Homo sapiens: one gene and its partners. The protein of the gene in region 1 purifies or fractionates together with the protein of each later gene. This does not show direct contact. Each region holds a gene or a part of one and is shown on either strand. Other genes may lie near its edges.

The links.
Region 2: the proteins of DUSP10 (region 1) and NUP205 purify together in Homo sapiens (affinity purification with mass spectrometry, with the first as the bait; one large-scale study listed by BioGRID). This does not show direct contact.
Region 3: the proteins of DUSP10 (region 1) and PRUNE1 purify together in Homo sapiens (affinity purification with mass spectrometry, with the first as the bait; one large-scale study listed by BioGRID). This does not show direct contact.
Region 4: the proteins of DUSP10 (region 1) and DNAJC10 purify together in Homo sapiens (affinity purification with mass spectrometry, with the first as the bait; one large-scale study listed by BioGRID). This does not show direct contact.
Region 5: the proteins of DUSP10 (region 1) and SPRR3 purify together in Homo sapiens (affinity purification with mass spectrometry, with the first as the bait; one large-scale study listed by BioGRID). This does not show direct contact.
Region 6: the proteins of DUSP10 (region 1) and CDC45 purify together in Homo sapiens (affinity purification with mass spectrometry, with the first as the bait; one large-scale study listed by BioGRID). This does not show direct contact.

What each region holds. Positions count from the first base shown.
Region 1 is NC_000001.11:221,731,829-221,735,598, forward strand, and holds part of DUSP10 (dual specificity protein phosphatase 10), read right to left. Parts: exon of another isoform or gene 3,607-3,770; intron 1-3,606. UniProt on the Homo sapiens protein: Protein phosphatase involved in the inactivation of MAP kinases. Has a specificity for the MAPK11/MAPK12/MAPK13/MAPK14 subfamily. It preferably dephosphorylates p38.
Region 2 is NC_000007.14:135,560,733-135,564,502, reverse strand, and holds part of NUP205 (nuclear pore complex protein Nup205), read right to left. Parts: intron 1-3,770. UniProt on the Homo sapiens protein: Plays a role in the nuclear pore complex (NPC) assembly and/or maintenance. May anchor NUP62 and other nucleoporins, but not NUP153 and TPR, to the NPC.
Region 3 is NC_000001.11:151,014,754-151,018,523, reverse strand, and holds part of PRUNE1 (exopolyphosphatase PRUNE1), read right to left. Parts: intron 713-3,770; coding exon 620-712; intron 58-619; coding exon 1-57. UniProt on the Homo sapiens protein: Phosphodiesterase (PDE) that has higher activity toward cAMP than cGMP, as substrate. Plays a role in cell proliferation, migration and differentiation, and acts as a negative regulator of NME1. Plays a role in the regulation of neurogenesis.
Region 4 is NC_000002.12:182,729,602-182,733,371, forward strand, and holds part of DNAJC10 (dnaJ homolog subfamily C member 10 isoform 1 precursor), read left to right. Parts: intron 1-246; coding exon 247-340; intron 341-1,428; coding exon 1,429-1,506; intron 1,507-2,897; coding exon 2,898-2,941; intron 2,942-3,770. UniProt on the Homo sapiens protein: Endoplasmic reticulum disulfide reductase involved both in the correct folding of proteins and degradation of misfolded proteins.
Region 5 is NC_000001.11:153,000,144-153,004,503, reverse strand, and holds SPRR3 (small proline-rich protein 3), read right to left. Parts: upstream 2,756-4,360; 5' UTR 2,711-2,755; intron 1,902-2,710; exon of another isoform or gene 1,818-1,901; intron 1,503-1,817; 5' UTR 1,484-1,502; coding exon 974-1,483; 3' UTR 648-973; downstream 1-647. UniProt on the Homo sapiens protein: Cross-linked envelope protein of keratinocytes.
Region 6 is NC_000022.11:19,503,802-19,507,571, reverse strand, and holds part of CDC45 (cell division control protein 45 homolog), read right to left. Parts: intron 2,211-3,770; coding exon 2,091-2,210; intron 187-2,090; coding exon 55-186; intron 1-54. UniProt on the Homo sapiens protein: Required for initiation of chromosomal DNA replication. Core component of CDC45-MCM-GINS (CMG) helicase, the molecular machine that unwinds template DNA during replication, and around which the replisome is built.

The DNA of each region.
Region 1 (3,770 bases):
AATCTCTTGACCTCATGATCCATCTGCCTCGGCCTCCCAAAGTGCTGGGATTACAGGCATGAGCCACCACACCCGGCTGGCTATTTCTTAAAAAAGAAAAAGAAAAAAAAAGTACAAACATGTGCTTCACAGGAGAACAAAATTTCGTGAAGATGAAACACTCCCTAAATAAGATTGTGTGGCAGAAGAAGATGAAGAATAGAAACATGAACACAATTTCCAAGATGGAAAGGATCTGGAAGACTGGTCCCATCCATATATGTTGTCTTTCTTGCATTTGAATGATAAGCATTGTGATGCAGATTGCCCAGCCTGCAGATTAGTGCCTAGCACACCAAAGGCATTCAACAATATTTATTGAACAAACAAATGAATCTCCTCTGCCCACAAGTTTGTACAGCTGTGGAGACCACCTACCAAAAAGTCCCTAGAAGCCTAAGATGGTTGGGCTTCTTTGATACCTGTTTTGATAGCTGTTAACAGCTGAAACCACTAGGTTAACAGCTTAAACCACTAGGTTCCCCAGATGAAGAGATTAAATCAACATTAATATTTGGTCCATATTCTAATATCCAGGTAAATATATAGACCATGAACTGCTGGTTTTGAAAGTCCTCAGACTTTGGTCTTTTTAGTTCTGAACTGAAATCTCAAAATTCAAGAAAAAAGGCATCAGTACTCAAAAAATCTTATATTTTATGCTATATATTAGATTCTGTTGTTATTAAATAATGATACATACGAATACCTCAGTCTGTTGATATCTATTGAATCTGTTGAACCTGGCAAGACCTACTTTAACATTAAGGACTAAATCTCTAAAATTAATCATGCATGTGACCTTGGACAAGCCCCATTCCTGTAGTGGCATAATGAGAATACCGGACTAGATCAATGGTTCTCAAACTTTGCTGCCTGTTAGAATCACTTTGGGAGCTTTAAAAAAATCTTGATGTGCAGGCTGCACCCCAGACCAATTTAATCAGGCTTTCTGGACACACGAACTGGGCATCATAGGTTATAAATCACCTTCAGGTGATACCAATGAACAGCCTGCAGTGAAAACTACTGGATTAGGGGCCCTCTAAAGTTCCTTGCTCTTCTCAAAGCTGGGATTCTTTAGTTCCAAAAAGGTGAGATGACCTCTCCTGGAACTAGAATTTCTCTCCTTAATATGTAGTCTATCTTTTTCAACCAACTTGGATTAAACTGCCTAAGCACTCCGATATATCACACATTCATGCCCAAACTGCTCTTCAGCAATGCTGGGGCTTGGAGGTTCTGGCTTCTGATAATGCAGGGTTTAAGGAACTAGATTTTTGCTACTGGTCAAAAGCTCCCACTTAGTCCCTGAGGGTGTATGCACCAGGAGTATGTGACGGAAAGTTTTTCTGCTCCTGTAATTTTGTCAGACCTTCAGATGGGTTTGCCTAAAGGACCAAGTAGAAAAGTGTACATATTCACCATTCTCCCTTCTCCTTTCTCCTATACACACGTGCTTTGAAAACAGAAATAGGCAAAGTGCTTTACCTATTCAGTTTCCTTCCCCTGCTTTGCTTTTCTAATGTGAAATCATGTCTCCTATTGCCAGGAGAGGAGTTTCTTGAACTTGTCCATGACAAGCTGGATGATTAAGTTAATTAACTGTTCTGAATTGGTAAGGGCAAGAGTATTCATACTTAACAGGCTCCCACAGTACTGTGCTTAGAACGACTTGCCCATCCTCCCCAATACCCCTGCCCCTGCAATGTAAGAGGTTCTTACATTAGTGCATGAGAGTAGGAGAGCAGGGTCCAGAGGCTTGATTTATTGACAGCCATCAAATGCCAGGTACTTTGTATCACCTTGTTTCAACCTAGGATGCTGGAGCTGTCCCTGTTTTACAATGAAGAAAACCTGGCCTCTGAGAGGCCCCCTGATTTGCCTAAAGGCATACAGTTGGTCAATGGAAATGCCTAGATTTGAACCCAGGTGTAAGTGAGCAAAATTTCACTCTGCTGAGCACATCGTGAATGAGGAACAGATAAAGCAAGAACATGGCTGGGAGAGAGAGTTCATTTCTATTATCTGTTCACCTACACTTAAATTAGGAAGCAGGAGAGTGTACCCAAAAGCTCAGAGAGAGGACAGCCAACTAACTGTGCAGCAGTTCAGAAAGAAGTTTCAGGACTTCCTGAAAGACAGGAGCAGGCCATTCAACTCCTTCCCTCCTTTTTCCTTCACATTCTAACTCAACACAACCCTAGGCTCAGGAACCAGCGCACCCCTCCTTCCATCTACCCTTTTATAGTCAGTCCACAATCCTTATTCCAAAAATAAATCCTCCTGATGAGATGATGAGAGGCAACAAAAAGCAAAGCTAAAAAGTTTTATGCTTTTGTTATGGGACATTATTTGGACAGAATTATTATCATGTTTTTACAAATTTCCCTAAAACAAATAATTCTGGATATACCCAAATTACTCCAGCCTCCTGGCCCAATATGTTTTTGCAATTACTTGGCACTCCAACTCTATGCAACTTAAATTAGTTAACAGTCACCAAGTTATTTTTAGGCCATAGCAACACACACACTCTACTATACCTAGCTTGTTATTTGTACTCCTTAGGAACAAAATTTGCCTTTGTACTGGCACTATCATTTCCTTTCAATCAATATCAATAAAAACATTCTACCATATTTATGGAGTGCTTACCATGTATGTGTATAAAGTTCTGAACACTTTACACACATTAATTCATTTATTTCAGAAACTAACACTTTGAGATAGCTATTGTTATATCCTCTTTTTGTTAATGAGGTAACTAAGGAACTGAAGGATTCAGTTCCTTCCCCAAGGGCACATACCTAGTTAGAGGGGAGCCAAGGCTAGCATTCAGGCTGACTAGATCCGAAGTTCTGCCTTGATTTCTCCATCATTTGCTACAAGGCTAATGTTTGACATTTTAGCCTTGGATGTTAACCAGAGGCTCAGAATAACAACAGCACGTTTATGAATGTAGATATGTCTTTATTTCAGGTATTTTTTAAAATCCTCATAACATCTCTGAGAGAAAAGGGGAGACTTTTATTCCCTTCCCCACCCCACCCCCGAAAAAAGGGCAGAAACAGAATATTTTTCACAGGTCTCTGATTTCTGAGCCTAGCCATCCACTTTGTCATAGAACTCTATTGCCAATAAGAGTATATTTCAGAATTCTTTTCAACTAGGGAAAAGTGTGCAATGTATGGTGCTCAATTCTAAGGAGTGATGAAGTTTTATAGTATAAAGGCCTAACTGCCTGCATGATCAAATCCTCCCCATGGATCATCCTTTTAAACCATTTCCCTCTTCTTCTCACATTCCCCCAGTAAAGGCCTTTGGTACAGAGCAGTCCTATAAAGATTGTAGCAGTTGGTCATTCCTTGTTTTACAACAGCATAGAGCAAGTAGAGGCATGGGCTCTGACATACCAGGGAGGAAGGGGGACACACAGACCCCAAGGAGGCACCTGGAGCCCTCCTACTCCCAGGGAGGGAAGCTCCTCTGTAGACCTGACTGCCAGTCAGTCACAGAGGGATTCGAAGTTGAAAAGCACTTAAAAATGGGTACATGACACTCAAGTGTTTACGAGTGAAAATGTTCATAGTATACTATAAAATATTTCCAGCTTTATTGAATTTGAAACATTAATTTACACATTAAACATACTTAAATACATTAAAACATTATCTATATTTTTAAATATTTCAACAGAAAAGAGAAAGCAAATAGGAAAAATATAATTG
Region 2 (3,770 bases), on another chromosome or scaffold:
CCGAGGTGGGCAGATCACAAGGTCAGGAGTTCAAGACCAGCATGGCCAACATGGTGAAACCCTGTCTCTACTAAACACACACAAAAAAATTAGCTGGGCATGGTGGCTAACACCTGTAATCCCAGTTACTTGGGAGGCCGGGGCAGGAGAATTGCTTGAACCCAGGAGGCAGAGGTTGCAGTCACCTGAGATCATGCCATTGCACTCCAGCCTGGGTGACAGGGCAAGACTCCGTCTCAAAAAAAAAAAAAAAAAAATAGCTGGGCATGGTGGCTTGTGCCTATAGTCTCAGCTACTCATGAGGCTGAAGTGGGAGGATCACCTGAGTCTCAGAGGGTAGAGGCTGTAGTATGCCATGACTGAGCCACTGCACTCCAGCGTGGGCAACAGAGTGAAACCTCGTCTCAAAGAAGAAAAAGAAAAAAAAAACACCAAAGGTAGCCGCAACAAAGAGTTATCTTCAATCTGTCTTGAGTTTGACCAATTTCAGTAAACACCTTTTTTTTGTTTGTTTTTTGTGACAGGGTCTTGCTGTCACCCAGGCTGGAGTGCAGTGAGGCAATCACAGCTCATTACAGCCTCAAACTCCTGGGCTCAAGCAACCTCCTGCCTCAGCTTCTCTAGTAGCTAGGATTACAGGCGCACGCGCACCACCAGACCTGGCTAATTTTTGTATTTTTTGTAGAACTGGGATGTTGCTATGTTGCCCAGGCTTGCCTTGAACTCCTGGCCTCAAGTGATCCTCCCTCCTCAGCCTCCTAAAGTGCTAGGATTACAGTAAATATCTTTTTTACTGATTACAAATGAAGGGACACTATAAATTTTTCAAAATTACTAAATATGTATTTTTACCATGTAGTTTAGTCAGTTGAGAAATACATTTATTTTCCTTAATGTTTAGGGATACCTCCAGCAAATCACATTTACTCACTCATTCACCATGTGTGAGGTATTGGTAAGATTATACTGCAGTGAGGAAAAACATTAATCATAATCATACATAAATGTAAAATCTGGCCGGGCACAGTGGCTCACGCCTGTAATCCCACCACTTTGAGAGGCCAAGGCGGGCCACATCACGAGGTCAGGAGATCAAGACCGTCCTGGCCAACACAGCGAAACCCCGTCTCTACCAAAAATACAAAAAATTAGCCAGGCGTGATGGCATGCGCCTGTAGTCCCAGCTGCTAGGGAGGCTGAGGCAGGAGAATCGCTTGAACCCAGGAGGCGGAGGCTGCAGTGAGCCGAGATCACGCCACTGCACTCCAGCCTGGGCTACAGAGTAAGACTCCATCTCAAAAAATAAAAAAATAAATAAAAATAAAATAAAATCCAACTGTGGTCAGGATATGAAGGATATGAAGGAGAGGTAGCCAGGGCAAGAGATCACATAATAGGGGACTCTGACCTAGCCAGAGGAAAGAATTATCCATGAGGAAGTGATAACTAGGCTGAAATCTGAAGAACAAAAGTGATAGTTAACTGACAGGTGGGAGGTGAAGACATGCATTCCAGGGAGAGGACAACCTGTGGGTTTCCATGGCAAGAGGGAATGCGGCATGTCAAAGAACTCAAAAGGCCAAGAGAGCTGCAGTACAGAAAACGGGTTTGGCAAGATCATCACACAGGGCTCACTTGCCCACGTTAAAGAATTTTGATGACCGAGTGTGGTGGCTCAGGCCTGTAATCCCAGCACTTTGGGATACCGAGGCGGGCAGATACGAGGTCAGGAGATCAAGACCATCCTGGCCAACACGGTGAAACCCTGCTCTACTAAAAATACAAAAATTAGCTGGGTGTGGTGGCGCACGCCTGTAGTCCCAGCTACTCAGGAGGCTGAGGCAAGAGAATCGCTTGAACTTGGGAGGCAGAGGTTTCAGTGAGCCAAGATCGCGCCACTGCACTCCAGCCTGGCAACAGAGCCAGACTCTGTCTCAAAAAAAAAAAAAAAAAAAAAGGATTTTGGTCTTTACTCTAAAAGATCAAGCCAAATGAAGATTTAAAACATGGGGACTTTCTGCTCATGCCTATAACCCCAGCACTTTGGGAGGCCGAGGCAGGTGAATCGTTTGAGGTCAGAAATTCGAGGCACCCCTGGCCAACGTGGTGAAACCCCATCTCTACTAAAATTACAAAAATTAGCCAGGTGTGGTGGTGGGCGCCTGTAATCCCAGCTACTTAGGGAGGCTAAGGCAGGAGAATCTCTTGAACCTGGGAGGCAGAGGTTGTAGTGAGCTGAGATCACACCACCGCACTCCAGTCTGGGCGACAGAATGAGCCCCTGTCTCAAAATAAAAAATAATTTTTTAAAAAGGAACTTTCTGAACTACAAGAAACAGAAGTTAACCCTATTGAGAGCTGTTTACAAGGATGGAAGAGACCAGAATGGGTGAAGGAATAGGAGGTATGAAAAGGGAGTCAGTAGGCTGGGCATAGCAGTTCAGGCCTGTAATCCCAGCTACTAGGCTGAGGCAGGAGAATCATTTAAACTTGGGAGGTGGAGACTGCAGTGAGCCGAGACTGCACCACTGCACTCCAGCCTGGGCAGAGTGAGGGAGGGAGGGAAGGAAGGAAGGAAGGAAGGAGGGAAGGAAGGAAGGAACAAAGGAAGGAAGGAGATGGAGTCCATGAATACTAACAAATCTTTTGAAAGGCTTGACTAGGAAGAGGACAGTAAGTGGAGTGACGCATGAGATCATCAGTGGAGAGAAAGGGAAGAGCAAGAGAGAGAAGTGAATATACAAGACAAAAAAAGGGGTAACAGGTGAAGAACACAATGGGTGGGATTTACATTAGATAGGAAGACAGAGGAAAAGTGATTCAAAAGAATGCAGACACACCTAGGTTTGTAGGTTTGAGAGTGAATAAAGGGAGTTCATGTATGTTGGCTCCTATTTTCTCTGTGACTAGAAGTCTGAGGGTTTAGTTAGTTGCAGGTTAAAGATTTGAAGAGTGTAGAAAGGTCTGAAGTAGTCACTGCTGTGAATGGACGAGGTGACCAGACTATCACAGAAGGACTGCCAAGCAGTGTTAATAGTTGCTTATTCACAAGTCTGTGAGTGTACTCAGCCAGGTTGATACAGGTCACAAGACTAGTTAAGTTATACAGCTGAAATACAAGCATAGGTTTTTTTGTTTGTTTTTTGTTTGTTTGTTTTTAAGACAGAGTCTCGCTCTGTTGCCTAGGCTGGAGTGCAGTGGTATGATCTCGGCTCACTGCAACCTCCTCCTCCTGGGTTCAAGCAATTCTCCTGCCTCAGCCTCCCGAGTAGCTGGGATTACAGACACCTGCCATCATGCCAGGCTAATTTTTGTATTTTTGTAGAGACAGGGTTTCACCATGTTGGCCAGGCTGGTCTCGAACTCCTGACTTCAGGTGATCTGCCCACTTCAGCCTCCCAAAGTGCTGGGATTACAGGCATAAGCCACCACACCTGGCCAACCATAGGTCTTAGAACTCTACAATCTCTGTATTTTTTCCTTACAACTCCAAGATGTTTGATTTTTTAAAACTGTAATTTAAAGGAAGCACATAACATAGAATGCAATCTCAACAAATTTTAAGTGTACAGTTCAGCAGTGTTCAGTGTATTCACATTGTGCAACAGATCTTCACAGCTTTTTTCATCTTGCAAAACAGAAACTCTATGCCCCCTAAACAACTCCCCACTTTCCCCTTTCCCAGCCCCTGGCAACCACCATTCTACTTTCTGTTTCTATGAGTATGACTACTTCAGATACCTCATATAAGTGGAATCATGTAGTATTTG
Region 3 (3,770 bases), about 71 Mb from region 1:
TAGTTCAGAACGTTTTATATTTAAAACTGGCACAAAGACTTCCTCAGCCTCAGTTGTCTAGATAGGAAAGTGAAAAGAAGGTATCACAAGGTTTTATAATGACAGGAAAAAGTAACAAGACTACTGGGACCAAAGGAGACATACTTAGGTAAGTTACCACCTTTCTCAAAGCCATAAGTACCCAGTCTATAAAAATGAAAGGATGACTTTTGCCCTCCCTCCTTCTTAGTAATAACATGAAAGTCAACAAGGTAACTCATGGTAAATACCTATTTCTAGATGCAATGCTGCAGAGAAGGAATTTTTAGTCCTCAAGAACTAACCTGGGCAGAGGAATACACACTAGATCACTGATACCTATACGGAACTCAGTAATAAACTGTTTGAATATTGCTTTATGGTTTACATATCCCTCGAAATATATTTGCTCACTTTTTTCCTCACAGCAACACTGCAAAATATCATTTTAGTTTTTATGGATGGTGGCATGAGACTCAGCAAAGTTAAGGGATTTAATTTACCCAATGCTAAATGCTGGTAAGTGGTAGAGCTGGGTCTTGAATCCAGATCTTTTCGTTCTGAGGGACTCAGATCCTAGGTACTACGTTTTTTTACCCACCTTTGCTAGGTAAAAAGCCAGGGCAAGAGCAGACACTGTGGAGTCCAAATCACAGGCTTCATTTCCCAGCACAACATGTAGAGGTCGGGACTCCTGGAGAGAAAGGAAAATGGGAAACTAACAAAAGTATCTCTATTCATTTCCACTTATCTTTTTTTTTTAAATAATATATATATTTTTGAGACAGGTCTCACTCTGTCGCCCAGGCTGGAATGCAGTAGCGTGATCACAACTCCCTGCAGCCTCAACCTCCTACTAGGTTCAGTCGATCCTCCTGAGTAGCTGGAACTACAGGAAAGCGCCACCATGCCCAGCTAATTTTTTGTATTTTTTTGTAGAGACGGGATTTTGCCATGTTGCACAGGCTGGTCTCAAACTCCTGGGCTCGAGATCCAAAGTGCTGGGATAACAGGTATGAGCCACTGTGCCTGGCCTCTCCATCTACCTTATACTCATGTAGGGCTTCACACACTTCCTCTCATTGATCTTCACAGAGGAGGTAGGTCAAATAATCTAATGGGTCCTCATTCCATAGATGGCATAAGTGTTTCAGCTAAGCTTATAGCATTCTACCTATATCCAGTTTGTAGAAAAGTGTTCTTTCCTCCTATCTCCTTCAATGTTAACTTATAGAGCAGTAAATAAACTTCGGATTTCTTATCTTCTTTGGGCACTCAAACAGTCAAAAAAGGGAATTTGGGGTAGCTGATACATTCAAGGCATGCTCTTGGGCATATCAACCCTGGTTGATTATTTTCTTCCCATTTTCATAATAGGTAAAAGAATGCTTATACTTTTTTTTTTTTTTTTTTGAGATGGAGTTTTGACCAGATTCTCATGCCTCAGCCTCACAAGTAGCTGGGATTACAGGAATGCGCCACCACACCTAGCTAATTTTGTATTTTTAGTAGAGATGGGGTTTCTCCATGTTGGTCAGGCTGGTCTCGAACTCCCGACCTCAGGTGATCCGCCCGCCTTGGCCTCCCAAAGTGCTGGGATTACAGGCGTGAGCCACCGTGCTCGGCCGAATGCTTACACTTCTAAATCATGATTGCAGGTGAAGAGGCTTTGAGAATAAAGGTTAAAAGTAAGATCTAGTCCAGGGCTGGGCGTGGTGGCTGGCGCCTGTAATCCCAACACTTTGAGAGGCTGAGGCGGGCGGATCACCTAAGGTTAGGAGTTTGAGACCAACCTAACCAATATGATGAAACCCCATCTCTACTAAAAATACAAAAATTAGCCAGGCATGGTGGTATGCGCCTGTAATCCCAGCTACTCAGGAGGCTGAGACAGGAGAATTGCTTCAACCCGGCAGACGGAGGTTGCAGTGAGCCGAGATTGCGCCTTTGCACTCCAGCCTGGGCAACAAGAGCGAAACTCCATCTCAAATAAATAAATAAAATAAAATATACTAAAACTGGAGTGCCCAAAATCGGGGTGACAGGGTCTTGGGTTTTGTTTGGTTTTAAGCATTTATTGAATGTGCCAGGCATTATTCTCATATTTTTTCATGCATTAATCAATCATTTAATCTTTAACCCAATGAGGCAGGTACTTATATCATTTCATTCCAGGTATAAGCATTCTGCTGGGTGGAATGAGACCAGAAAGCCTATGGCCCAGCATATGGCACAATACTTCTGTCTTACCTGCTTACTTTTTTTTTTTGAGACAGGGTCTTACTTTGTTGCCCAGGCTGGAGTGCAGTGTCACTATCTTGGCTCACGGCAACCTCCACCTCCTGGGTTCAAGCAATTCTCCTGCACCATCCTCCTGAGTACCTGGGACTATAGGCATGCGCCATGATGCCCGGCTAATTCTTGTATTTTTGGTAGAGATGGGGTTTTGCCATGTTGGCCAGGCTGGTCGTGAACTCCTGACCTCCAGTGATCCGCCCACCTCAGCCTCCCAAAATGTTGGTGTGAGCCACCATGCCCAGCCCACCAGTTTACTTTTGAACTTCTATCTCAGCCTGGTTCTGAGAGAGGATGGGATGAGACAGACAAAATGAGACACACTAAATATAGCAGGGTTTCTCAATTTCAGCATGACTGGTATTTTGGACTAGATAATTCTTTTTCTTTTTTTAACTTTTACTTTTTGAGACAGGGTCTCACTCTGTAACCCAGGCTGGAGTGCATGGCGCAATCACGGCTCACTGCAGACTCCACCTCCCAGACTCAGGTGATCCTCCCATCTCAGCCTCCTGAGTAGCTGGGACTACAGGCACCCGCCACCATGCCCGACTAATTTTTTTTTTTTTTTTTTTTTGAGATGGAGTCTCACTCTGTCGCCCAGGCTGTAGTACAGTGGTGTGATCTCGGCTCACTGTAACCTCCACCTCCTGGGTTCAAGAGATTCTCTTGCCTCAGCCTCCTGAGTAGCTGGGATTACAGGCACATGCCACCATGCTCGGCTAATTTTTGTATTTTTAGTAGAGACGGGGTTTCACCATGTTGGTCAGGCTGGTCTTGAACTCCTGACCTCGTGATCCGCCCGCCTCAGACTCCCAAAGTGCTGGGATTACAGGCATGAGCCACCGTGCCCGGCCCTTGTTTTTTTTTTTTTTTTTCAGATGGAGTCTCACTCTGTCGCCCAGGCTGGAGTGCAGTGGTGCAATCTGGGCTCACTGCAACCTCTGCCTCCTGGGTTCAAGTGATTCTCCCCCTTCAGCCTCCCGAGTAGCTGTAGTAGACTACAGGCGTGCGCCACCACACCCAGCTAATTTTTGTATTTTTTAGTAGAGACAGGGTTTCACCATGTTGGCCAGGCTGGTCTTGAACTCCTGACCTCAGGTGATCCGCCCGCCTCAGCTTCCCCAAGTGTTGGGATTACAGGCGTGAGCCACCACGCCCAGCCAAATTTTTGCATTTTTTGTAGAGATGGGGTTTTACCATGTTGCCCATGCTGATCTCGAACTCCTGGGCTCAAGTGATACAGCTGCCTCGGCCTCCCAAAATGCTTGGATTACAGGCATGAGCCACCATGCCCAGCCGGATAATTCTTTTTTTGTGGAGGCTGTCCTGTGCATTATAGGATATTTGGCAGGATCCCTAGCCTCTACCCACATGGATGCCAGTAGCACCCTAAGTCGTGACAAACAAAAATGTCTCCAGACTTGCTGAATGTTCCCTGGGGGGCAAAACTGCCC
Region 4 (3,770 bases), on another chromosome or scaffold:
ATATCTTTTTTCTTAGTTTCCAGTGAGGAACCTGAACGATTATAAATGGTATTATTAAAATGTGTTCCATAGAATCTGTACTGTCAAGATTATCAGGATATCATTTGGAAATACATTCTGCTATTGAGAAATAGAGCTTTGCTGCATTATTCAAGATAATGTAAAAATCAAACTCTTTGGTATTATTTTTATTGAGTTTTAAAAAGAAAAAGTAAAAGATGTTTCTCTTCTTACAAAAACCAATAGGCCCCAGTGAAATATCATGGAGACAGATCAAAGGAGAGTTTAGTGAGTTTTGCAATGCAGCATGTTAGAAGTACAGTGACAGAACTTTGGACAGGTAATTTTATTTTCTTAATTTGCTTGATTTTCAGGGTATTTTGAAATCAGTATTTTGTTTTTAATGGCAATATTAACATTTTGGTCATGGTATTGAAATTTTAAAGTGTCTTTTCCATGTTTCTTAGAAGGGAATTGTGTCATTTACTCTGAACTCTGCTGAATTTAACAAACTAGTTAAATTTTTACAGAAACTTGAACTATCGAGATATGGGAAATGGATATGAGATAGGGCTACGGTAAAAAAGGCATCTCTCAAAGTGCAAAAAATGTTTTGTAATACAAGTGTTTTATTGCTTTTTTAAATATGCTTATCAATCAGTAAATTCAAACCTATTCTGTTTAATTTTAAAGTTTAAAAATGCTTCTAATCTTAGGCTTTTAACTCATTAACTGCCTTTAGGCAGATTAAGCTAATAATAGTATTTGTGGCTCAAGATGTTCATTTTATTCATTGAGTAAAGTTACGTGTCAGAAACTATTAAATAGTGGGGCTGCAGTAATAAAATATATAGTCCCTGCCATCAGTGACTTCATTAGTGAGGAAAACATTAGTAAACAATTAAAATGCAATATAGGTACTATTATTATAGAGCTTAAGGGAGCATAAGATGTGTAAAACAACCCAGTTGGGGAAAAGAGAAAGAGTTAGAAAATACTTCTTGAAAGAAGTCATATCCAATCTGTCATGAAAATGAATAGGAAGCCTTAGGAGATCACTGTGTATTTGGGGAACTGGCAATACTTCATGAATCTGACAAAAAGATCAATAATTGGGTCAAGTGGTGTGGGGAAATATAATATAGCTGGCTAAATAGGTAGGCAAAGCTCAAGTCACAGGGGCCTAACTTGCCAATTTGAGTTTTTTTCTTAATGAAATAATGAATTTAGGTTTTATATGATGAAAAAATTGGAGAGCCATTGAAGGAATTTGTCATACTCAAGAGTATCTTTGGAAAGATAACTGGTAAAACTCAGAGTGGATTAGAAGAGGGTGAGATTAGAAAGGAAAAATTACTTAGAAGACTGTTTCCATTAGTAAAGGAGTAATAGGTGATCAGAATTTGCTTTTTTTCTTTTATTTTTAAGGAAATTTTGTCAACTCCATACAAACTGCTTTTGCTGCTGGTATTGGCTGGCTGATCACTTTTTGTTCAAAAGGAGGAGGTAATACTATTTTTTAATTTTGTTGGAATGAGAACATGACATTTAAATTTTTGGTGACAGTTTTAAGTATGCTACTGTAATTGATTATTAAGTACTAGAAACTACAATTTATGCCCAGGATTACAATTTTTTTACTTAATGAATATTCGCCTTTTTCATTATTTTACACATGAGGTTATTATTCATTTTTTAATGTATCCTCTATGTTTTTATGTTCAGTGGACCAGTTTTTCAGCTTAGACTCATGATAAATTGTACCTTCAGATAGCCACAGATGTTATTTGACAATTTGCAAAAATAACTAGTTGTTTACAGCTCTAACCCCTCCCAAAATAATAATTTTTTGGAAATATGGACTTTGCTTCATGCTTATATATATCTCTCAAACATACATAGATTTGCCTCATACAATTATATACTTGAAGATGACAGCTTCTTCTAGGAACCTTTCCTTGAATAAATTAAGTTGAAAATTCAGTACTCTGCATAGCAAGCCGTAAACTGTAAACTGTGTTCAAGCAATGTGGTTGGTTAAAAATTGTTCTAAGACAACAAAATATTATAACTCAATGTATTTGCATGTATTTAATCCCAACATGAGTCTTCTCCCCACATTTCATCTCTCAGCCTTCATGCTGCTATATTGAAAAGGTACTGCCTTGTAACTAAAATCAACCCATTACCCCATCCTGTAAGGCCTATGCTAGAAAGACACTGCCTTGCAGCAAAACGTCAGCCTTAAACTTAACTAATCACCAAGGGATTTTGTCTCATTTTGGCCTATTGCCCAAATTTCTGTTCATCCACACATGAACAAAAGTTCTTACATTCTCTGAGATTCTTTTACTTCTCACCTCAAGTAAATTGCTTCTCCCTGTCTTTGTAGGCTCTGTGATGCTATAGCTCTCTTTCTTCTAAATCTTCTCTCATTGTATTCTAGTGTTCATATTTGCAGAACTTTCATAAAAATAGTGAAGGCACTATTTAAAGATTTTATTGTATTTTGAGGATCCTTTATATACTTCTATCAAATATCTATTACATTTTATTTCCCCCCAATTTTGAGATCTCTTGGATAAAATGGATTGTTGATAGGAGGAGAGATTGAGAGTATTAACCTAAAGAGAGAAAATTACTTTTTCTCTGTAGCTAGACATCCTAGAAATTAAAGGGAGAGAATGAAAGAAAGAGGGAGCGAGGGAGTGTGTGTGTGTTTTTGTGTGTGTGTTTGTATGTGTGTGTGTGTAGAAGGATTTCCATATCTATCAATAGAGTCCAGCTCAATTAATTGCCTTCGAATGAACATGGTAATTTGGGGGAAAGGCAAATGCAAGTATTTTCATCAGGCTTAATAAAGGTAAAACTGCCTCATAAGGTTTTTTTGTCCCCAGATTGTTTGACTTCACAGACACGACTCAGGCTTAGTGGCATGTTGGTAAGCATCAATCATTTTGTAAAACTATATCACCATGTAAAGAAACACATTTAGAAATTGATTTGAAACATTTTCTTCCCTTATTTCTTGAACATTTAACTCACCTATTTGTAATCTTATTTTCTGATGACTGTATTCATAGCTATGTGTTTTTTCCTGAATAATTAGTTACGTTCAATAAATTTTAACGTGGTATCAATTCTAAGTGTCATTTACTTTGTAAGTATTCTGTAATTTATAAGTTCCTCTTCAACTGAAGTTACATGTTAGTGTTTTTGTCATTTCCCAACTTTATCTTTTGTTGTTTTCTTTTTTAGTCATTTTTAAATGTATATAGCTCTCATGTTATGGCTGGGAAGTAGCCTGAGTGATGTTGATTTTTTAACACCATTGAAATACCCTTTGTGGCTTTGTGGCTTGACAAAGCCACACAAATTGTCAGTTTTGAAAATTTTGGAAATTCTTTGTGAGCTTGAATATAATAATGTTATGTTAGGTGTAATATATGTTAGGTGTAGTATTACATTTATTAGATCAGATTTATTAATCATGTTATTTGTTTTTGGACTACATGATCTATAATTTCTAAGAGGGATGTATTAAAATCTCTACCATCCATCATTGATTTATCTATTTCTTATATTTCTGTCAGTTCTTCCTTTACATATTTTGACATTATATTGTTGGCAGCAGTATGATCATTATATCCTTTGGCGGCTATTTATTTCTCTTTGTGCATTATGGATTTGTTTACACAAATTCTGTTTTATTTGATATTAAAATCACTAACTTAGTATGCTTTTGTTTCATTCCCTTTCTTATTTCACCC
Region 5 (4,360 bases), about 69 Mb from region 1:
AATATCCTAACTCGTAAACAAGACTGCAAATTCTACAAGGGAGGTGCTGCGTATCCTCCTCTCTCTCTCTTGCTGGTCCATCTTTAGGGATCTCTGCACATAAGAGTTACTTAGAAAAAATAACATTGAGCTAGAGAGGGTAGAGCTTGTGTGAATGATTATGTGACTGTGTGGCTATTTAAAATGAATGTTTCTCTTTGTGAATGACTCTGTGTGTGTGTGTGCGTGTGTGTGTGTGTGTATGTGTGTGGTGGGGTATCTAGAAGGTAAAACAAATGAAGAAAAATAGACTGTCCAGTCAAAATATGTAGGAGTAAAGTTTTCTTGGAACAAACAGGAGATTTGTTGTCAGGATACTGAGGATCAGAGGTGTCTTGGAACAGGTGGCTTGGAGTCAGGCATGACTCAGTCCAGTGCAAGAGGAGAGCCTGTGGCTGCCCAAAGTGACAACTTCTATTCAACATCACACCAGGCCCATTGCCATTCCAGGAACACCTCAACTGTAACCCCATACACCCATAGAAACAAACAGTACTGGGGTTAAATAGATGACTTCTACATCAACTCCTCTCTGTCTATAGGTCCTGACTCACAATGGGGAAACAAGGAAGGAGGAAGATTCTGCCAATGACACACACAGCCAAGACTGGAATTAAAAGCAATTTAATGAGGGAAGAGCAGGAAACATGCATTTCTTTTCATTCGAATCTTCAGATGAACCCTGAGCAGCCGAAGACCAGAAAAGCCATGAAGACTTTCTGCTTAATTCAGGGGCTTACAGGATTCTTCAGAGTGTGTGTGAACAAAAGCTTTATAGTACGTATTTTTAGGATACAAATAAGAGAGAGACTATGGCTTGGGGTGACAATGTGCTGATTACAAGGTCTACAGACAATTAAGACACAGAAACAGATGGGAAGAGGGTGTCCAGCATCTGGTGGTTGGCTTCTCAAGGGCTTGTCTGTGCACCAAATTACTTCTGCTTGGTCTTCTGCTGAGCTGGGCCTGGAGTGACCGTTGAAGGACATGGCTCTGGTAGCTTTGTGTAGCCTGGCACAGGAACTTTGGTGTATCCTTGCTCAGGAACTTTGATGGCACCTGGCTCAGGAAACTTGATGAAGCCTTGGTCAGGGACCTTGATGCTGCCTGGTTCAGGGACCTTGGTGTAGCCTGGCTCAGGGACCTTGGTACAACCTGGCTCAGGGACCTTGGTACAGCCTGGCTCAGGGACCTTGGTACAACCTGGCTCAGGGACCTTGGTACAGCCTGGCTCAGGGACCTTGGTACAGCCTGGCTCAGGGACCTTGGTACAGCCTGGCTCTGGAATCTTTGTGTTTCCAGGTTGTGGAACCTTTGAGTGGCATGGCTCCTTGGTTGTGGGAACAAATATTTCCTGAGGTGGAGGCTGGCTGGGTTGTTTCACCTGCTGCTGTTGAAGCTGAGGTGGTGGGGTAAAGGTCTGCTTCTGCTGGTAAGAACTCATGCTTCAAAGGATGCTGGACCTAGAGACAAAACAGCTAATTCAGTGCTTTGATTAAGTAGGAATGAAGCCCAGTTTAATGACAAATATCTGTCATTTCATTCTCCTTCAGAACTGAGAGCCTCTCTTTTCTTTCTTTTTCCCTGAATTTGAGATCATGGGATGCTTTGGTGATCCCCACTTATCTTCCAGAGAATAAGGTAAAGTTGATTTCTTCCACATCGTGTAAATGGAGCCTTTCTTTATGCTTCTTTTCTTCCTGGTACATCTAAAAACCTACGTACAACATGAAAACACATACAAATATGCAAATATATACTCTGAAGCTTTCGCTTACACACTCTTTGAAGAATCCTCTAAGCTCCTGAATTAAGCAGAAAGTCTTAGTGGCTTTTCTGGTCTTCAGCTGCTCAGGGATCATCTGAGGAATTGAGTGAAAAGAAATGCATGTTTCTTGCTCTTCCCTGATTAAATCACTTTTAATACCACTCTTGGCTGTGTGTCATTGGCTGAAGATTGATGTGACACCTCAGTTTTTCCATAAGTTGGAAAGATTTTAAGGTCAGCAGTCTAGAATCTACTCACTCATGTCCTCCTTATAGAGTGCGATAGTTCTCCCAGGAGAACTCTTATCTAAACTTCCCCCTAAGGCTCCCACAATCCACCTGGGAGCCTCTGTTCACACTGTGCCTGCTGCACATGCTCTCTGGCAGGCTCTCCACATCATCGCTGCCTCCCCACACATGCCCACCTCTCATGGCTGTCCTTCCTGATGCTCTCACCTTCCTCGTTTTGCCACAGCATGATACTTGCTTTCCCTCTCTGCTAATCACTCCCCATGCTGTATGTTTGCAAATTTTAGTCAAGTATATGTTTTCTAATGGATTATACATTCATGCAATAAAGAAAAACTTATCTTTTGATCATCAAAATTGCCAATGTAGTGCCTTCTATATTAAAAATTTTCAATACATGTTGACAGGAGAGTGCTCTTGAAGTGGGTATATTGTCTTGCTAACTTAGCAAGCCTTTACAGAAATCACTCCCCTTTTCTGATCCTAAGTTCCACACCTGTAATCTGAGTGGAAAGTCAAAATATGTATAAGGTCACCTTAAACAAAAGTCGTTATTGCATTTAAAATAAATATATTCATTGCATAGCAAAGAGATCTCAATCAAAATAAAGAAACTATTGGAGAATATTAAGGTGTTCCTAATGCGGAGACTCACCTGCTGTGCAGAGAAGGTCGAGGTGTTCAGCCTCTGGGATCTGGTGAAGAGTCTCTTGTTAGCTGGTATTTATATAGAAAATGAGCCCTGCCTTAAGAAAATTGGATTTTTTAAAAGACTGCTCTAACTTCATTCCAGCTTTTGTGATAAGTATCTCTGGCTTAACATTTTTTGTCACTTAAGCTCTGACAGTGATGTCACCTGGGCCTGACTCACTGTCCACCCTTTGTGGTGTGGTTGCTGTGGGCAAAGGTCTTCTTGAATGGCAATGGATTAAATTAGGAGGAAGTACCATGCTCCTAGGACTAGAACGAGCCAGGCCTCTTGGCCTGGGCCCTAATCTTTAGCCAGATTAGTCCTATTGGGCTTCCTCATGGTTGAAGTGGACATGGAAATAACAATAGGCATTTCTGGTTCTGCGAGGCCATGGGGATGGTGCAGAATAAGTGAATCATCTGATTTTCAGTCTCTTACTGGATTTGGACCTGGGAGGAGCAATGGAAGGCAAAATGCCTGCTTTGGAAATAAGTTGCTTTCACTGTGAAGGGCGCCTTAAGGTGCCGTGTTGATCAGGGATAGTAGATGTCATTGAGATGGACAGGCAGGATTGACTGGATCTGTGTGACATTGTGGCTCAGCCCTGAAGACCCTGCCTCTTGTGGTATCTTTCTTCTCCAGGAGTGACATAGGAAGAGGAGCGTGCTGATTCCCTAGGTTCATACACCAGCCATTTCCTCTGATCACTACAGGATGAACCTCAAGTCACTAACTCAGAGTTGCCCTCAATACACACTCTCTTACTAGACGCGGCCCTTGGAAAATCCAGACATCCTTACATCTCAGGCATGTGAATAGCTCCTCCTTTCCCAATGTTCCACGACTGTGTTACTCCCTTGAACCTGATGCCCAGCTCCTTCCACCAGGTTCTGAAAGCCCCTTGTTCTACTTCAGCGTCACACAGTGCCTGGTTATCATGGGTGTTAAGTCAATGGACAGTCATTGTTCTCCTGAATAGAGCTGTAGGTTCATGGAAGGGAGAAAGGAAGTGAGAAAGAAACAGAGATAGATAAAGAAGAAAGGAAAGAAAGAAAGAAAGAGAGAGAGAGAGAAGGAAAGAAAGAAAGAAAGGAAGGAAGAAAGGAAGGGGAGGGGAAGGAAAGGAAAAGAAAAGAAAAGAGAAAAGAAAAGAGGAAAGATAGGGAGGGAGGGAGGAAGGCAGGAAGCCACAAGGCAGTTTCTTGGGCATGATTCACTGTCCTGTGCCAGGCCTCCTGGTGTGAGCTGAGAAGAGGTGTGAGCTGATAATTCATGAAGGAGAAGAGGCTTACCCTCCCTTCCACACCCATGTCCTTCCCTCTCTGCTAGCATTTGTTTGACCGGCCACTTCCCTCTGGGATGGGCCAGGGCCACTGCCATGCCTAAACTCTGGGCTCTGTCATCACATTAGCTCTTTTTCAGTGTTGGGTCCAGGTTTCTCTCCTCAGCAAATCCACCTCTCAGGAGCCACAGACCCTGGGGGCTTCGGCTAGACCCTGCTGCTCCACCTGGGATTTTCCTCCCCAGAGGAAGGAAGCTCCTCTATGAATCCTGGTCTCCCTCATTTTCTTCCTCGATTCTGCACCTTGGTTCTAGAGGAAATTCCTTTCTGAT
Region 6 (3,770 bases), on another chromosome or scaffold:
TTTCCCTTGGGGGTGGCCAGGGCTGGCACTGCAGAGGCCCAGGCAGTCACTCACCCCATGTCTGCAAGGAACTCCTGGAGCCGCTTCTGTCCATGCACAGACCACAGCTTGAACCTGGCTGCGGTATAGCTGGTGTTGCACAGGCTGTCATGGAGGGACCAGTGCTGGTAGAGCACCAGGCGGAGGCTGGGCCTGCAGTCAAGGAGCATGCAAGCACCCACTGGCCGCCCTGAGCACTCTCGTAACTCCAGCAGGTGGGCCACTCTGATGGCGGGGCCCTTTCTCACCAGGCCTGCCTGCAAAACCAGGTATCCCAAGAGTGACCTGGAGCCCTTTGACCTTCTTAGCTTAAGCTGACCCATACAGAGAGCCTGTGAAGTGACAGGCATAGACCACCATCCGTCTGACAGGCAGAGAATCTGGAGCACAGGGGTCTGCAAAGTCCAGGTGCTGTGGTCACATGGAGCAGTCATGGCCACACATGACGTAGGAGGCTGGGCGTCACCAGCTTGTCGTCCTGCACCTCCTGCTCCACCTAGCCCAGCCCTCCCTACAACCCATTCCTCCGGAGAGCCCTCCACTGGGACCCCATCCACGAAGCGCCCCCATCCTCAGCCCTTTTTTCGTTTTTTTTTTTTGAGACGGAGTCTCGCTCTGTCGCCCAGGCTGGAGTGCAGTGGCACGATCTCGGCTCGCTGCAAGCTCCACCTTCTGGATTCACGCCATTCTCCTGCCTCAGCCTCCCGAATAGCTGGGACTATAGGCACCCGCCACCATGCCTGGCTGATTTTTTGTATTTTTCGTAGAAACGAGGTTTCACCGTGTTAGCCAGGATGGTCTCGATCTCCTGACCTCATGATCCACTTGCCTTGGCCTCCCAGAGTGCTGGGATTACAGGCGTGAGCCACAGCGCCCGACCTCCTCAGCCCTTTTCTTAAACATATCCATCACTGCCCCTGGCACCGTGAGCGCAGTTGTGAGTGTGGACTGTCCCCCACGGTGGATTTCCCCTCTACAGGACGAGAGCCTGGTCCTGCCTGCTTCCTCGGCATGCTCAGTTCCCACCACTGCCCCTCCCAACTCCTGGGAACTCCCAGGCCTTCAGACCACCATGCTCCCTGCCCACACTCCAGCAGCTTCCTCAAGCCCCAGCATCCTCAGCTCCCTGACTCCCTCCCTCCTGTCTCAGTCACACACTCCCATGGTCCCTGGGTAAGTGAGCCCACCCTGCCACGCACATGATGGGACCAGCTCCAGTGCACAGCGGCTCCCCTCCCCAGGAGTTCAGCCAGCTCCACCCCGCTCCCCAGGCTCCGATGGCCACCTGACTACTGACGTGTCCACCCTCACTCTTCCTCCTTCCCAGCCATCACAGTGCAGAGACAGGGCAGCTCCGTCCCTGACATCATGCTATCTGACTGCTTACAGCCACTGCTGCAGTTTGGGCCAAGCCACTATTGTGTGGCCTTGGAAAGCAGTGACCATCTCCTTGCCCCCAACCTACCTCTACTGGGCAGCCAAGGGACCTTTTAAAAACCCTGACTCAAACTCTGGTCACTCCACAGCCTCCCGCTGCCCTTGGCTCACAAGGCTTGCTCTGGCCTCCTGACACCTGACCCCAGCCAGTCCCCCAGCCCCTCCTGTGCTCAGTACAGCAGCTGCCACACTGAGTGTGGCTGAGACTGTGTGAGATGTGGTCTCCCCATGGTCTTTTCTGAGCACTCCACCAATGTCCCATGTGCTTCTCAAAAGACACGTCACGCTGTGTGATTACATGGCAGCTGCCTTCTTTCCTGACTGCGTGAACCACTGCCCGCACTGCTACCATGTCCAGAGCCAGGCCCACAATAAGCACTTTACAGGGATGTGCTGGAGAAGGGTGATACTTCCAAACTCAGCTCTGGCATTTAGAAGCCAAAGCCACACAGATGAGCTGGGGTAGCACACCACAGCCCCTTCCCCCAAAACTTCCTGCCCCACCTGCTTTCCCTCCTGGGGATGTGGCCAGAACCCACAGAGGGTGACAAAGCAAACAAGGCCTGCTGAGCAGGGGTGCTGCCTGTGCCCCTCAGGCTGGGCCACAAGGATACTCATACTCAAAGGAGATCCGTGTGCAGTCCACGGAGAGTGTGTTCTCCTCATCCTCGTTCCGGTGGTTGTGGCGGGAAACGTGGCGCTGCAGGACACCAACATCAGTCACGTATTTCATTCTGGAAAAAAAAGTAGCACAAGCCTCGGCTGGTTCCCTCCAGCTCTTACCAGGCAGCCTAAGCCTAGGCTCCATTCCCGCTCAAGGCCTTCCTCAGGGGCCTGCTCACCACAGGAGCTGTTCCCATGCAGGGACTAAGGACATGCAGCCTGCATAGAAACCAAGCACCCAGGAAAACATGATTGGATGGAGCGGGGGGGTGTGGTCTCTAGCCTTGTCCACCTCCGGTCCTCATGGGTCTCACACCTCCTGAGAATGGGCACCGCAGAGGCCACAGCCCATACAGCCAAGATGACAGACTCCGTAAGTGACAGGGATCCACAGCAGAGTGGGTGAAATGTTCCCTATAAACTTTACAAAATTAATGAGGGCAGGGGGAGGGGAGAAATGAAAATGAACCCAGCTCGCAGCACATCAGCATCAGTCACTAGGTCGGCGTGCTCTCTGACTGCTTCCTCGTAGCTGCTTGGTGTCTCATTGCCTCAGAAGCATGTAGACCCTGTCACAAGATTGTAGTTCCCCTAACTGCTCCGTAGATCACAACTTGAACCTTAGGAAATGCTGTTTTCCCTTTGAGATATTCCTTTGGGTCCTGTATACTGATGGAGCTACTGACTGAGCTGCTCCGAAGGACCCCACGAGGAGCTGACTAAACCAAGAGTGCAGTTTGTACACCCTGATGATTACATCCCCCTTGCCCCACCAATCAACTCTCCCAATTTTCCAGCCCCTCACCCTCCAGTCCCCTTAAAAGCCCCAGCCCAGGCCGGGCACAGTGGCTCATGCCTGTAATCCCAGCACTTTGGGAGGCCAAGGTGGGCAGATCACCTGAGGGCAGGAATTTGAGACCAGCCTGACCAACATGAAGAAACCCCGTCTCTATTACAAATACAAAATTAGCCGGGCGTGTTGCTGCATACTGGTAATCCCAGCTACTTGGGAGGGTGAGGCAGGAGAATCACTTGAATCTGGGAGGCGGAGGTTGCGATGAGCCGAGACAGCGCCATTGCACTGCAGCCTGGGCAACAAGAGCAAAACTCCATCTCAAAAACAAACAAACAAACAAAACCAAAAAAGCCCAGCCCAGAACTCCTCAAGGAGATGGATTTGAGGATCTCCTCCCATCTTCTCACTCGGTGCCCTGCAATCATGAAACTCTTCCTCTGCTGCAAACTCTGCTGTCTCAGTGTAACAAGTCTGTTACTGCACAGCAGGCATACAAACCTGCTGGTCCTATAACACATTATGGTGAGTCTAGCCTCGAGCCCCTTGTGGGCATTTGCTTGCCTGCGGCTTGGTGCGCCTTCGCTGTTCAGTGGGAAGGACCCAGAGACAAGCCCAAAGCCCAAGCGGCCACTGGGTTCCATTGAACTATATGGGCTGCCACCCGTGCCCTGCCTGTTGACAGGGCAATGTCAACCTTTGGTGCATAGACTGCTCGCAGCAAAGCAAGTTTCTGGTTTTGAAAGGCATCTTAGGTAAGTTTTCTCCGTGCAACCAGCACCCTTTTCTCCTCTGATTTGCTGGCCTCTTTGGAGGTCCTGTGGCCTCTTCAAAGGTT